2 linked regions of the Homo sapiens genome follow. Each later gene encodes a partner of the first gene's protein in a complex. Links are inferred from orthologs where the notes say so. Each region holds a gene or a part of one and is shown in the gene's direction. Other genes may lie near its edges.

Evidence for each region.
Region 2: the proteins of NOTCH1 (region 1) and DLL4 are in contact, whole or in part, in a crystal structure (PDB 4XLW), measured with the Rattus norvegicus proteins. The link is inferred for Homo sapiens from one-to-one orthologs. Residues at the interface, in NP_001099191.1 of Rattus norvegicus: Glu415, Leu418, Ala420, Asn421, Pro422, Glu424, His425, Phe436, Pro447, Arg448, Glu450, Ile451, Asp452, Leu468, Asp469, Gln470, Ile471, Ile477; in XP_006234827.1 of Rattus norvegicus: His65, Thr76, Phe77, Asn109, Phe110, Thr111, Pro113, Tyr180, Ser186, Arg187, Leu188, Lys190, Arg192, His195, Phe196, Tyr199, Lys216, Tyr217, Asp219.

What each region holds. Positions count from the first base shown.
Region 1 is NC_000009.12:136,501,033-136,508,050, reverse strand, and holds part of NOTCH1 (neurogenic locus notch homolog protein 1 preproprotein), read left to right. Parts: coding exon 1-96; intron 97-613; coding exon 614-746; intron 747-1,077; coding exon 1,078-1,335; intron 1,336-1,411; coding exon 1,412-1,524; intron 1,525-2,169; coding exon 2,170-2,741; intron 2,742-2,946; coding exon 2,947-3,378; intron 3,379-4,720; coding exon 4,721-4,869; intron 4,870-5,562; coding exon 5,563-5,779; intron 5,780-5,962; coding exon 5,963-6,050; intron 6,051-6,137; coding exon 6,138-6,303; intron 6,304-7,018. UniProt on the Homo sapiens protein: Functions as a receptor for membrane-bound ligands Jagged-1 (JAG1), Jagged-2 (JAG2) and Delta-1 (DLL1) to regulate cell-fate determination.
Region 2 is NC_000015.10:40,924,984-40,932,339, forward strand, and holds the start of DLL4 (delta-like protein 4 precursor), read left to right. Parts: upstream 1-4,356; 5' UTR 4,357-4,685; coding exon 4,686-4,751; intron 4,752-4,863; coding exon 4,864-5,133; intron 5,134-5,641; coding exon 5,642-5,699; intron 5,700-6,519; coding exon 6,520-6,783; intron 6,784-7,187; coding exon 7,188-7,248; intron 7,249-7,333; coding exon 7,334-7,356. UniProt on the Homo sapiens protein: Involved in the Notch signaling pathway as Notch ligand. Activates NOTCH1 and NOTCH4. Involved in angiogenesis; negatively regulates endothelial cell proliferation and migration and angiogenic sprouting. Essential for retinal progenitor proliferation.

The sequences.
Region 1 (7,018 bases):
GGCAGCTACTGTGAGGACCTGGTGGACGAGTGCTCACCCAGCCCCTGCCAGAACGGGGCCACCTGCACGGACTACCTGGGCGGCTACTCCTGCAAGGTGGGGGTCCCTCCTAGGGTAAGGGTTGTGGCCGGCACGAGTGTTGCCACACACCAGGCCCTGGCTGGGAGCTGGCCCAGTGGAGAAAACTGAACCTGATAGGCCCATGCACTGTTCAGTCTCATTAGGGGAGGGCTGGGGTAATCAGGGTAGACTGCCTGGAAGAGGTGGCCTGTGGAAAGCCTGAAGGAGGGTACCTATACTGAGAAGTGGGATGGGGTTTTCCCTTCCCCTAGATTGTGTCTGGGCTTGGCCAACACCTACCCTGAGGCCCTCACCTCTATCCTATGGGACGGGGTCCACCCACCCCCAACAGGCAGTGACTCCGGTCACCGAGGCCCCGCCAGGGTCTGTTGGGCTGGGTCTCTCTCCAGGTCTGACAGGAGCGAGGGGCCCGTGGCTTCGCTGGACCTGAGGGCAGCTCATGTGGCCCTGTCAGCCCTCACAGTGGGGTGTGGGAGCACTGCATCCTGGCGCCGGCTGAGCCGAAGGGCCCCTCGTTCTGTCGCCTGCACAGTGCGTGGCCGGCTACCACGGGGTGAACTGCTCTGAGGAGATCGACGAGTGCCTCTCCCACCCCTGCCAGAACGGGGGCACCTGCCTCGACCTCCCCAACACCTACAAGTGCTCCTGCCCACGGGGCACTCAGGGTAAGGGCCGCTGCACGGAGGGCTGGTGTTGGCCATCCATGGCCAGGGCAGGGGCAGGGCAGGCACCCCGGGACCGGCCAGAGGCATCCAGGAACCAGCCAGAAACTCCCATTTTCCTGTGTGAGGCCAAGGCCGACTCACAGCTGCCCAGGGAAAGGGCCCAGAGCGGGGGTCCCAGTGGGAAGGGCGTCTCCACGGCACCCTTGACACCTGCCTCTCCCGAGTGTCCGTGCAGCCCCAGACCTGAGCGCTCGTCTTCCGGGACGGACACGCGGCACGGCAGGGCCGGGGTGTGGCGGGCTTGGGCCACTGACGAAACCTGGCCCCGCAGGTGTGCACTGTGAGATCAACGTGGACGACTGCAATCCCCCCGTTGACCCCGTGTCCCGGAGCCCCAAGTGCTTTAACAACGGCACCTGCGTGGACCAGGTGGGCGGCTACAGCTGCACCTGCCCGCCGGGCTTCGTGGGTGAGCGCTGTGAGGGGGATGTCAACGAGTGCCTGTCCAATCCCTGCGACGCCCGTGGCACCCAGAACTGCGTGCAGCGCGTCAATGACTTCCACTGCGAGTGCCGTGCTGGTCACACCGGTGGGTGCCGCGCCCAGGCGGGTGGGGCGTGTGGGGCAGCAGGGTGAGCCTCTCACTGCCCTGCTCTTACCCCTAGGGCGCCGCTGCGAGTCCGTCATCAATGGCTGCAAAGGCAAGCCCTGCAAGAATGGGGGCACCTGCGCCGTGGCCTCCAACACCGCCCGCGGGTTCATCTGCAAGTGCCCTGCGGTAGGTGCAGGGGTGCAGGGAGGCAGGGGCCCGCCAGGGGAGACACCTGGAGAGGTCCACGTGGGGGCCTCGGGGCGCAGACCGGGCAGTGATCCTCCCGGCCTTCATCCTCCTCCTCACCCTGATGTCTTTTTTTTTTTTTTAGTTTCAATAAATGATTTTAGAGACATTTTAGATTTATAGAAAAATGGAGCAGGAAGTAGACTCCCTGGGGTGGCTGTCCCCTGCACGCAGTTCCCCTGGTTAGCAGCTTGCATCAATTTCACTCTGGATTTCAGTGATACATTGTTACCAACAGCAGCCCTTCCTGTACCTGGGGCTTGCCCTTGGCTTTGTGGTTGTGGGTTTGGGCTGAGGTATGACATGCCTGCCCACCCTCGCAGGATCACGGCAGAGAGTCCCTGCCCTAAAGTCCTCAGCACTCCACCAGTTTACCCCTTCCTCCATCTCCCGACCCCCTGGCACCCCCGATCTTTCTCTGTTGGTAGAATGTGTGTAAAGGGTTTTGCTGCTGGGGGCAAGGTTGCAGGCCGCCTCCCAGGTTAGAGGAGAGCGGTGGCACTGCTGGCCGAGGGCTGGGTGTGAGGTGGCGGGGGGGCGGGGGGTGGCCCACCCCGACACCGTCCTGTCTTCCCTCTCGGGCAGGGCTTCGAGGGCGCCACGTGTGAGAATGACGCTCGTACCTGCGGCAGCCTGCGCTGCCTCAACGGCGGCACATGCATCTCCGGCCCGCGCAGCCCCACCTGCCTGTGCCTGGGCCCCTTCACGGGCCCCGAATGCCAGTTCCCGGCCAGCAGCCCCTGCCTGGGCGGCAACCCCTGCTACAACCAGGGGACCTGTGAGCCCACATCCGAGAGCCCCTTCTACCGTTGCCTGTGCCCCGCCAAATTCAACGGGCTCTTGTGCCACATCCTGGACTACAGCTTCGGGGGTGGGGCCGGGCGCGACATCCCCCCGCCGCTGATCGAGGAGGCGTGCGAGCTGCCCGAGTGCCAGGAGGACGCGGGCAACAAGGTCTGCAGCCTGCAGTGCAACAACCACGCGTGCGGCTGGGACGGCGGTGACTGCTCCCTCAACTTCAATGACCCCTGGAAGAACTGCACGCAGTCTCTGCAGTGCTGGAAGTACTTCAGTGACGGCCACTGTGACAGCCAGTGCAACTCAGCCGGCTGCCTCTTCGACGGCTTTGACTGCCAGCGTGCGGAAGGCCAGTGCAAGTAAGGCTGCGGGGCTCATGGGGCTGAGGGAGGACCTGAACTTGGATGTGGCCTGGCTTGGGCCCGGAGGCCAGCATGCAGTTCTAAGGCTCTGCTCAGGGGGTGCAGGGACGTCCCCCGCGGCTGGCCAGTGGGCTGGAGGCACCGGACGGCGGGTGCGAGGCCCCCCGAGGAAGGCGGCCTGAGCGTGTCCCGCCCCCCACAGCCCCCTGTACGACCAGTACTGCAAGGACCACTTCAGCGACGGGCACTGCGACCAGGGCTGCAACAGCGCGGAGTGCGAGTGGGACGGGCTGGACTGTGCGGAGCATGTACCCGAGAGGCTGGCGGCCGGCACGCTGGTGGTGGTGGTGCTGATGCCGCCGGAGCAGCTGCGCAACAGCTCCTTCCACTTCCTGCGGGAGCTCAGCCGCGTGCTGCACACCAACGTGGTCTTCAAGCGTGACGCACACGGCCAGCAGATGATCTTCCCCTACTACGGCCGCGAGGAGGAGCTGCGCAAGCACCCCATCAAGCGTGCCGCCGAGGGCTGGGCCGCACCTGACGCCCTGCTGGGCCAGGTGAAGGCCTCGCTGCTCCCTGGTGGCAGCGAGGGTGGGCGGCGGCGGAGGGAGCTGGACCCCATGGACGTCCGCGGGTGAGTGAGACCCGGCGCCCACGGTCAATCCCCGCAACTCTCCTGGGCCCTCCCCGACGGCCTCCCTGCCCCTCACGGCCGGCGCCATGGCAAGCAGTACTCTCCCCACTTTATGGTAAAAGAGACGGAGGTTCCGAGAGGACCTGGGACTTCAGGGCCTGCGCAGGCAAGGAGTAGAGGCAGCATTCCAGCTCAGGGCCCTGACCCCACAGCCACACCCTTTTCCTGGGCCACTGCCTTCCCCTGGACAGGCGGCACTCCTGTGCCCAGTAGGTGATTTTGAGATTGAGCTGTGCCTTAGGCACTGGATACTACACTGATTAAAACTCAGCCCTCTGCCAGGCGAGGAGGCTCACACCTGTAATCCCAGCACTTTGGGAGGCTGAGGCAGGCGGAGCCCTTGAGCCCAGGAGTTCGAGACCAGTCTGGGCAACATAGGGAGACCTTGTCTCTGTTTTTTTTAAAAAAGTATTAAAAGAAGTAAAAAACAAAACACTCAGCTCTCCAGGGGTTCCCACAGGGCTGAACAGCCCCACCCCAGACAAGAATGCCGCTTGGTCATGGCGTCTGCCTGGCTTGGGCTGGAGAGGAGGCAGGTGGAGGTCCTGGGAGGGGGCATTGCTGGGCCTTGCAGTTGGAGGAGGAGCTGGTGGGGGTGGGGGGTCCCACGGTGGGAGAACACAGGCAGGAGCAGCTTGAGTGCAGGGGGCACCCCACAAGGCTCCCGCCCATGCCTACTCGATCTGGGGCAGCTGGACCCAGGAGCCAGGTTGGTTGTGCCCTTCGTGTGCCTGACCCTGGTGGGTTTGCCTGTCAGTTCTGCTGGCTTGGAGCAATCCTGGAGGTCAGAAGCATCATCTCACAGGCTGGATGGGATCCTGCTCACGGGAACCCAGTCCTGGGGAGCAGAGCTCACCCCCAGCCAGCCTCACCACACAGCCCACCACCGCTGCACCCACCCCCACCTCACGCCTGTGCTTCCTGCAGGGCCTGGGGATGGCTCCTGGGGGAGGACTGGGCTCCTGGCACATACTCTGTCCTGAGATGAGGAAACGTGTCTGTGGCACCAGCAGGAGCCAGAGAGGGTGTCAGGGCGGGCCAGGGAGAGCGCGTTGGTGGGTATCTGGGATGAGCCGTGATCAGCACTGGCCGGAGTCGGGGGGCTGGCACCAGTCCCCTGCAGGGTAGCTGCTGTCAGACCTGGCTTCCCACCACCCCAGGCTGCCTCACCATGTCCTGACTGTGGCGTCATGGGCCTCAGTGTCCTGCGGCAGCATCCCTGGCCGGTGGGCGGGGGAGGAGGAAGCCTCGGGTCCCAGCCCCTCTCTGATTGTCCGCCCAGCTCCATCGTCTACCTGGAGATTGACAACCGGCAGTGTGTGCAGGCCTCCTCGCAGTGCTTCCAGAGTGCCACCGACGTGGCCGCATTCCTGGGAGCGCTCGCCTCGCTGGGCAGCCTCAACATCCCCTACAAGATCGAGGCCGTGCAGAGTAAGTGTGGCCCCATCCCGGGAACAGGCTCTGCCTGCAGGGGGTGCCATCCCCCCGTGCCCCAGACACGCTGGCTGTTTGTGCCAGTTGCTACCCACGGGTGTGAGCGTTGCCGTCCGAGTTGGGGTAGGGCTTTTCTGGAATTTTCTGAATGGCACTCCGCCCCCACCTGCGGCGGTCACAGCTGCCGGTGGAGCCACCTGGGAACGAGTCCAGCCACGGGAAAGTGGGTGCCTGCTTCTCTCCCCACCCTTTCCTCCTGAATTTTCTTTGTTGGGTATTATTTCAAAATCATTACGGCTTTTTTTAAAGAAAAAAAAAGAGAGAGAGAGAAGAATTGATCGGTGTCATGTGAAGTGTTGAAGTTTGTATCTTGAAAATCCCTCTAAATCCTTTGTCTTAACAGCTCAGTGCGAGTGCAGCGATTTGAAGTTGACTAATCCTCCTTCCTTAAAGGAGAAAAAAGTAAAAGCCGTCTCCAGATAGAGTCGGCTGGTGCAGGAGAGAATTTAGCGATAGTTTGCAATTCTGATTAATCGCGTAGAAAATGACCTTATTTTGGAGGGCGGGATGGAGGAGAGTGGGTGAGGAGGCGCCCGGACGCGGAGCCAGTCCGCCGCCCCCCGGCCACCAGCCTGCTGCGTAGCCGCTGCCTGATGTCCGGGCACCTGCCCCTGGCCCCCGTGCCCGCAGGTGAGACCGTGGAGCCGCCCCCGCCGGCGCAGCTGCACTTCATGTACGTGGCGGCGGCCGCCTTTGTGCTTCTGTTCTTCGTGGGCTGCGGGGTGCTGCTGTCCCGCAAGCGCCGGCGGCAGCATGGCCAGCTCTGGTTCCCTGAGGGCTTCAAAGTGTCTGAGGCCAGCAAGAAGAAGCGGCGGGAGCCCCTCGGCGAGGACTCCGTGGGCCTCAAGTGAGCGGACGCCGCCCCTGCTTCTGGGTCCCCGGTGGGAGGTGGGACCTGGCCGAGCATCCTCACCGGGAGTCTGCCCCTCCCGACCCAGGGCCCACCTCCCACGCCAGGCCCGGGCCAGGGGTCTCTGGGGGCTTCCTAGGGAGCTCGCTCAGCCTCACTTCTCGACCCCTCACCCCCCAGGCCCCTGAAGAACGCTTCAGACGGTGCCCTCATGGACGACAACCAGAATGAGTGGGGGGACGAGGACCTGGAGACCAAGAAGTTCCGGGTGAGTCGCGAGGCTCCCGGGCTCCTGGGCTCCCGGGCACCTGCTGCCGGGCTGCCCTGACAGGCTCTGCTCACTCCCTCTATGTAGTTCGAGGAGCCCGTGGTTCTGCCTGACCTGGACGACCAGACAGACCACCGGCAGTGGACTCAGCAGCACCTGGATGCCGCTGACCTGCGCATGTCTGCCATGGCCCCCACACCGCCCCAGGGTGAGGTTGACGCCGACTGCATGGACGTCAATGTCCGCGGGCCTGGTAAGGGTGCCAGCAGCCAGGGCTTCCCTAGCCCCGTGGCCCACCTGCCTCTCTCCCCTAAGCCCCGAGGCTGGGGTACAGTTGATACTCTGGAAACTTAGAATTGGGGGTGAGAGCTTTCATCCTTGGGGTGTTTCCCATTCAGAGTAGACGTGGGGGGGTCCTGGAGTCCTCCTGTTCTTCCACCAACCCCTTCCTGGGGTGATACCGCAGGGCCACTCTGTCCCTGTAAATTACTCTTTTCTGAAACCTTCTTGAGACATGGAAAGCGTTGATTTTCTTTTTCTTTTTTTTTTTCTTTTTTTTTTGTTTTTGAGATGGAGTCTCGCTCCGTCACCCAGGCTGGAGTGCAGTGGCACGATCTCGGCTCCCTGCAACCTCCACCTCTCGGGTTCAAGCAATTCTCCTGCCTCAGCCTCCCCAGTAGCTGGGACTACAGGCGCCTGCCACCACACCTGGCTAATTTTTGTATTTTTAGCAGCGATGGGGTTTCACCATGTTGGCCAGGCTGGTCTCGAACTCCTGACCTCAGGTGATCCGCCCACCTCGGCCTCCCCCAGTGCTAGGATGACAGCGTGAGCCTCCGCATCCTGCTGAAGCATTAATTTTCTAACTGCATGCTTCTGGGGTCCTCTTTTTCCTGGGTGGATTTTGGGTGCCAGGTCTTGGGCAGGTCAGGAAGCAGTTGCCCGCCAGGAGTTTAAGCTGGATTCGG
Region 2 (7,356 bases), on another chromosome or scaffold:
TGCCTGGCTACTTTTTGTATTTTTTTTTGGTAGAGACAGGGTTTCACCATGTTGGCCAGGCTGGTCTCGAACTCCTGACCTCAAGTGATCTGCCCTCCTCAGCCTCCCAAAATGCTGGGCTTATAGGCATGAGCCACCACACCGGCCATCCCTATTATTATTATCCCATTGCACAGATGAGAAAACTGAGTGTAGAGCTAGAGTTAGGTTACAAGCCCAAGACCACATGGTTAGGAAGTGCCAAGAAGCAGGTCCATGTCAGGCTTATTCACCAGACTCACCTGGAGGGTGGGGAGAGACTCGTTCCTCCTGCCTCCTCCCCATCTCTGCTCAGTCCCCCTGACCAAGATTCTTCAGAGTTCGGTGTCCCTCAGCGCCCATGCCCTACCCCTTCCTTCTCACCGGGGCCCTTCTTATCATCAGTCACTGCATCCTGTTCCTCCCTTGAAGCCCCCAGATGAGTTCTCAAGGCCACCACCAAGTCATCACCTTCCTCACTCCTCTCTCCAGTCTCAGGCCTGTTCTATGGGGAACCCACTCTGTCCCGCGGGAAAAACCCTCAGCAGGCGGTTCCTTGTGGGGGCTCCAGAGAGAGGTGAAGGAGGCCACGCGGGGCACCGCCTGCTGAGCGGGAATCCCGTCCCTAACCGCTGGCGCCCCTCGAGGGGAGGGGCGAGGGCGGAGGTGGTTCTGCTGCGGCATCTGTCCCAGGCGGGCGGGAAGCTGCTGCATTAAATTGTAAAATCGATTTATTGACCGGCAGGTGCGAGCAGCGGCAGATGGAGAGTAGCCCTGCCGGGGCGCATCTGCGGGGAGCGGCGGCATCGATCCCGGCCCCCCTCTGAAACCCGTCGGTCCTGGGCCTTTCTCGCCAGCTCACTCCCAATTGTAGGGCCAAGGTCCTTGAAACTGCGGCGCCTGAATGGCTAGGGTAGCTCGACTCCCTCCCCCAACACCCTCCTGGCCTCAGGCCCCGGGCTGCGCCCCCACGGCTGCCAGGCTCTGCCAGTCCCACTGCCCCAGTTGGCACGCGGCGGGCCGGGCTGACGCGTGGCAGCGCCCTGCGGCAGATGAGGCACGCGCCGGCCTCATTTCAATGTGAATGGATCGAATGGAGCAGCCATGTGGCAGCAACAGTTTGCAAATCTCCACGCCTTCTGTGCAGCTCCCCGGCCGCCGCTCCCTGCACGTGGCCCCTTCTCCGCAGCGACCGCAGCGGCGCCCCTCAAGGCTTAAGCGCCCCGCCCAAGCCAGGCCTGCTTCCCCGCCCCTGGTCTGCCCAGCAGGCACGGTGGCCCGGCCCCCACCGCGCTCCTACCCGGGTGCAGTGTGCCCCGCGAAGAGCGCCGTCCCCTGAGAGGGGGTTGGGGAGAGGAGAGGCAAAACCGCGCTGAAGGTCTCGGAGCTGCGCCTGCGGCCGTGGGGAGGGCACAGAGGCTACGCTGCGGGGGAGGAGTCCCGAGGCTCTACGAGGCTCCTGTTGCGCCCCAATAACCTGGGGTCAGCTTGGGGACACCGCTGGAAGGCGACCTTAGCGCTTCCCGGTCCTCAGTGCCGGTTCTTATGGCTGGAGGACTATGCGCAATGGCCAAGCGTAGGGGGACAGCAGAAGCAGAAGGCCTCTAGGGGCAGAGGCGGTGGGCCTTTCATGAAGCCAGGCCTCGACCCTGCGCCCGCTTCCGACGTTGGGGAGTGTTGAGGGTGCGGGTCGAATTGAGGAACCCTGGGCCTGCGGAGGGTCAGTGGTCTTTCGGACTCTGGGTCTATCTGTGCACCCTTTCCATGCTGTTGTGGAGGGTCTGCGTCAGGGGCGGGGGCAGCCGACTTCGATGGGGGTCCAGCCCCACGGTGATCGGTGGCCTCCCATCCCAGGACCACGCGTGTAGCGTTCTTCCGCCCGCAAGTCCGAAAGTCCCGAGTGGGAGAAGAAGGAAGGCGCAGCCCCAGTTTTGGGCTGACAGAAACACTTGCGGCCTTCGCACTGGGCTCCCCACCCGCAGCATGACCCTCTCCTGCTCAGCAAATGTGGGCAAAGCTCGACCGCAGCGTGTGGGAGCGCTCGTAGGTACCCAGGGCCAAGGGTGGCAGTGTCCTAGCCCGGGAATGAGCTTCTGGGACAGCGCCTCCGCAAATAGGTGTTTCATGAATGTCTTTTGATGCTGAGAATTTAACCCTTTCCTCTTCTGGTCAGAGCCTTTCTAGATCTCTGGGATCTCCTGGGTGCTGCCTCTCTGAAGATAATAATCCCAACTTTTGTTTGGTCCTTGATAATTTGCAAAGTACATTTGGGCACATTAGTCTGGGCGTGTATGAGGGTAGAGAGTGTTCCAGATTTTCCAGTATTGGGAGAGATGCCTTGTGTGGGACTAGATGTCTCCCTTGAGGGTCAGGTAAGCAGGACCAGCGCCAGAAAAGGAGGATGTTTTTATTAACTCCTGGGCCAGGATTTGGAGTTGAGAGAGGACAGGGCTAGGTAGGGCTGGATGCCAGCTTGGAGGGGAGCAAGGGGCACCCGCTGGCATCTTAGAGAGGCAAGTCCAGGGATCCATAGGGTATAGGCGGAGAGAAGATCTGGGAGCCCACTTGCCAGGATCGCCGGGAGGCACGCCCCGGACTCCCCCTCCCTCGGGCCTGGGACTCCGCCTGCCCATAACCTACATTAACTCCCGAGCGCAGCCTGGGCCCATCTGCCGCCCCGCCCCACCTCGGTTCCCCACGCCAACCCGCTCGCGCCAGATGGTGGCTGGGAGGGGTGGCCGTGCGTGGGGGACCCCGGAGCCCGTCTCCTCACCTCGCCCCTCCCCCAACCCACGCTCCCAACCTCTTGTTTCTCATCCTTCCCCCCCCCACCACACCCGTCCCCCAGTCCTCCACCACCACCACCCAACTCAAAAAAAAAAATCAGACCATGCTCGGCATTGGCAGCTGTTGGGCTTCTCGCCGCTCCCCCACCCTTACCGCCTCCCCCGGGTTCGCGCCGCGTCCCGGCTCCCCCCCCGCGCTGATCTTACCGCCCGACTACAGCCATCACCTCGCGGGCGGGCTGACAGCTGAAGCCACAGGGCCCCCGCTGCCCTCGGCGTCGCAAAGAGAGAGCTCCCCGGCACCCCTGAGACTGGGAGAAGCCGGCCCTCCCCGGTCTGCGGTCTCCGGGGATCACGCCGGGTTCCGAGAAAGCAGCTGCGCTGCTGCCGCTTGGAGGAGTGGGGCCACCCAGGGGACCCTCTCGGGCGAGACTTGGGAAGCCGCCTGAAACTCAAACAGCTCCGCAAGCCTCCAGTTCCACCCCACATCCCGCCTTATGAGGCGAGGACCCGGGCCGACCCGGCCTCAGTCCCTCACCTTGATTCTCCAGTGGCCTGAGCCAACTCTGGCGTCAGGAGAGTTCCTCCTTGCCCCAGCTGAGCGACAGGGCGCGGCCGGGGGCTTGGGGCTGCTGGGGTGGGGGGAGGCAGTGGGCGCAGGAACTGAAGCTGGACTCAGGTGAGGGGACGCGCTGGAGGCGGGGCCAGAACCTCATTACCATACAGCTGAGGACGCGCCCCCCTCCTACCTCCGGGACCACGCCCCGCCCTCCCCCACCTCAGGGACCGCGCGTCTGGGTCTCTGGCACGCGCCAAGCCCTGGCAGGGGGCAGAAGGGAGAAGGCACGCGCTGGGCACGCCCCCCCTTAGCTAGAGAGGGAGACGCCCAACAGGTGCACAGAGAGGGCCCCGAGCCTTAGACCCTTAGCCCCTAGCCTTGCTCAGAGTGGCCACAGAGAGGTTAACGCTTCTGCTGGCTTCCCTGCTGCGCTGGGGACGCGTGGTGGGTGGGCACTCATAGGTTGGGGGCCGTTGAGACAAGGGCTCCAGAAGCTCCAGGAAGGAAAAGGAGATCGGATTTCCCTAGCGCTGGTTTTTGCATTCCGGGCTTAAGTTCTTTTTACCTGCTTTGGAACACTAGGTAACTAGCGCCTGCTGCGGATGCACAGCCTACAGGGACTGCCTAGTGTCTCCGCCCCCAAGACCATCCCCGAACCACCCACTCACCTCCTGCCCCATTACCGGGCAACCCCTCTATCCTCCGGCGGCCAGGGTCTCAGCCCTTAACCCCGCCATCACGGAGGACTGGTCACCTCGGCACGCGCAGAGCTGGGGGACCTAGAGGTTGGGAGCGGCACGGAGGGGCGGGGACCTGCGCCCGACTGGCTGACGGGGAGGGGGGAGCGGCGGGGGCGGAGGCCCCCTCCGGGCGGCGCTGGGACTGTAGCAGCTAGAGGCCGGGAGGGGAGGGGAGAATGACCATGAGTCTGAGTGACAGGCGGCGAGGAGAGGAGCCAATATATATAAGGAAGGCCCCCAGCGCGCAGGTTTCAGTAGCGGCGCTGCGCGCAGGCCGGGAACACGAGGCCAAGAGCCGCAGCCCCAGCCGCCTTGGTGCAGCGTACACCGGCACTAGCCCGCTTGCAGCCCCAGGATTAGACAGAAGACGCGTCCTCGGCGCGGTCGCCGCCCAGCCGTAGTCACCTGGATTACCTACAGCGGCAGCTGCAGCGGAGCCAGCGAGAAGGCCAAAGGGGAGCAGCGTCCCGAGAGGAGCGCCTCTTTTCAGGGACCCCGCCGGCTGGCGGACGCGCGGGAAAGCGGCGTCGCGAACAGAGCCAGATTGAGGGCCCGCGGGTGGAGAGAGCGACGCCCGAGGGGATGGCGGCAGCGTCCCGGAGCGCCTCTGGCTGGGCGCTACTGCTGCTGGTGGCACTTTGGCAGCAGGTAACACGTCCCGCGCCCTCTCCGTCCCCTCTGCCGCGCTCTGGGCCTCAGCCCCGGGCACCAGCTGAGCTGACCGGTCCCCTCCCTCCTTCCCTCGGTCCCTGTGCAATAGCGCGCGGCCGGCTCCGGCGTCTTCCAGCTGCAGCTGCAGGAGTTCATCAACGAGCGCGGCGTACTGGCCAGTGGGCGGCCTTGCGAGCCCGGCTGCCGGACTTTCTTCCGCGTCTGCCTTAAGCACTTCCAGGCGGTCGTCTCGCCCGGACCCTGCACCTTCGGGACCGTCTCCACGCCGGTATTGGGCACCAACTCCTTCGCTGTCCGGGACGACAGTAGCGGCGGGGGGCGCAACCCTCTCCAACTGCCCTTCAATTTCACCTGGCCGGTGAGCACAGCCTGGGCGCACTGGGAGGTCGCAGAAGCCGAGAGAGGAGGCGCCCTGGGACCAAAGCCCCCTCCCCAGATTTCCTTGTACACACACCCCCACCCCCAAAAAGCCCAGGATGCATTCTTTCCTGGCTCTTCCCGACTCTCTCCTGAGACTGATCCCAGAAAAGGCTCTCACCAGTCTCCGTCTTCCCAGTTTATGTCCTCCCGTCCCCAGCTCTTGGGACACGATTTTCATTACCTACCACTCTGGGGCGGTACCCTACCACCCCCTCCTCCAGTGGCTCTCCCTTACACTCTCCCGTCTCTCAACCCTCCCTCTACCGGGGGTTCTCCTCTCGCCTTCCCTGCTCAAGCGCTACACTGTGCACAGCCCCGTTATGTTGACCCGGGCGCAGTAACTGAATCCTGCAATTAGATTAATTAAACAGGCTGCCGCAAGGCACCCCCACCTCTCCCCGCTTGCTCATCTCGCCATCTCTCCGTCCCCCCACCCCCTTTCCCAGGGTACCTTCTCGCTCATCATCGAAGCTTGGCACGCGCCAGGAGACGACCTGCGGCCAGGTGAGTAGCTCGCTCCGCCACCACAGGGGGGCGACACGGCGCAGCGCCGAAAGAGTTAATCTGTTCTAGGCGGGGGAAGTGCGGGCTTGGGGGTGGGAGGCAGGACGCTTAGCTTGGCCTGGAGCTGCGCCCCGCGCTGGACGCTCGGATTCCGCTCGCTGCCTGGACTCAGAGCACAATTGCGTTTCCTGCGGGTTATTTTTGGCGTGGGAACGCGGGGAGTACGGCGGTGAGAAAGGCTGAAGCTGCCAGCGCCGCTGACGGGCCCCTTCCTGTATTTTACACCTTTCGCGAATTCCGCTCCTTTGGAAAGGGAATAATGGCTTTGGGATGTTGTTCTGACACAGAGGAAAAGGATATTTCAGCAGCACAACAATTCTCACTTTGAAAAGGAAAAAAGAAAACCATTACCCACCTCTGGAGGCAGAACCCCTGAATGGGCACCAAAGGACCCCCTGCTCCCAGGGTCCTCTCTAGCCTGGGGAGCTTTTCTTTCTTTTTCTCTTTTTTCCATTTTGACCTCTTTTCCTCTTTCCCCTCCCTATCTGCCTCCAAGACCCTGGGATATCTTAACATCCTTCTATTGTCCCCTTTTTGAATACTATCAGGCCCCCTGCACATGCACACACGTAGGGCAGCTACGTAGCGGGGCTTTGGGTCCCTCTGGCCTGTTCTTGCTGGCAGGCGGGGGTCATCTGGATAACTGGGCTGATTGGTTGGCTGATCACCATCATCACAGCCAAGAAGGACATTGGCCAGCCGTCACTGGCACCCTTGGGGACTGGCGACCCTTCCCTGACCCGACCCTCTGCCCCCTCAGAGGCCTTGCCACCAGATGCACTCATCAGCAAGATCGCCATCCAGGGCTCCCTAGCTGTGGGTCAGAACTGGTTATTGGATGAGCAAACCAGCACCCTCACAAGGCTGCGCTACTCTTACCGGGTCATCTGCAGTGACAACTACTATGGAGACAACTGCTCCCGCCTGTGCAAGAAGCGCAATGACCACTTCGGCCACTATGTGTGCCAGCCAGATGGCAACTTGTCCTGCCTGCCCGGTTGGACTGGGGAATATTGCCAACAGCGTAAGCAGTCAAGCTCCCACCTGTGTGGAAGGGGAGGGTCCCCTGAGGAAACACAGTGGAGCTTCTTGGTCACAGCTTGCCTCCCTTGAAGAGTGGGTCTGGGCCTCCTACTAGCTGGGCCTCAGGGATGCTGAGGGTGGGCTTGACCTCAGACCTCCTGTCTCTTCCCAGTGCTCCTCCCATCATGCCAAAGCCCACAAGAACCCCATCATGACATTCCATCCAGTTTGGCTTCTCCTTCCCTGTGCCATTATTTCACTTTAAGACACTCGGGGCTCCTCTGGGAGGCCAGGAGTAGGAAGAGGGCCCAGGAGAGCTAGGGGATCCCCAGGGCCAGCAGGTGAGAATGGGGCTTAAGAGTCCTTGGTATCCCAGCCTCACCCAGCTCTGTGTTCTTCCCTTAGCTATCTGTCTTTCGGGCTGTCATGAACAGAATGGCTACTGCAGCAAGCCAGCAGAGTGCCTGTGAGTAGGGGACAGGAAGTGGTGAGTGGGAGCCCTCCCTTGGCCAAGGCCTCTCACCTCACTCTGCCTCTCTCTTGTTCCCCAGCTGCCGCCCAGGCTGGCAGGGCC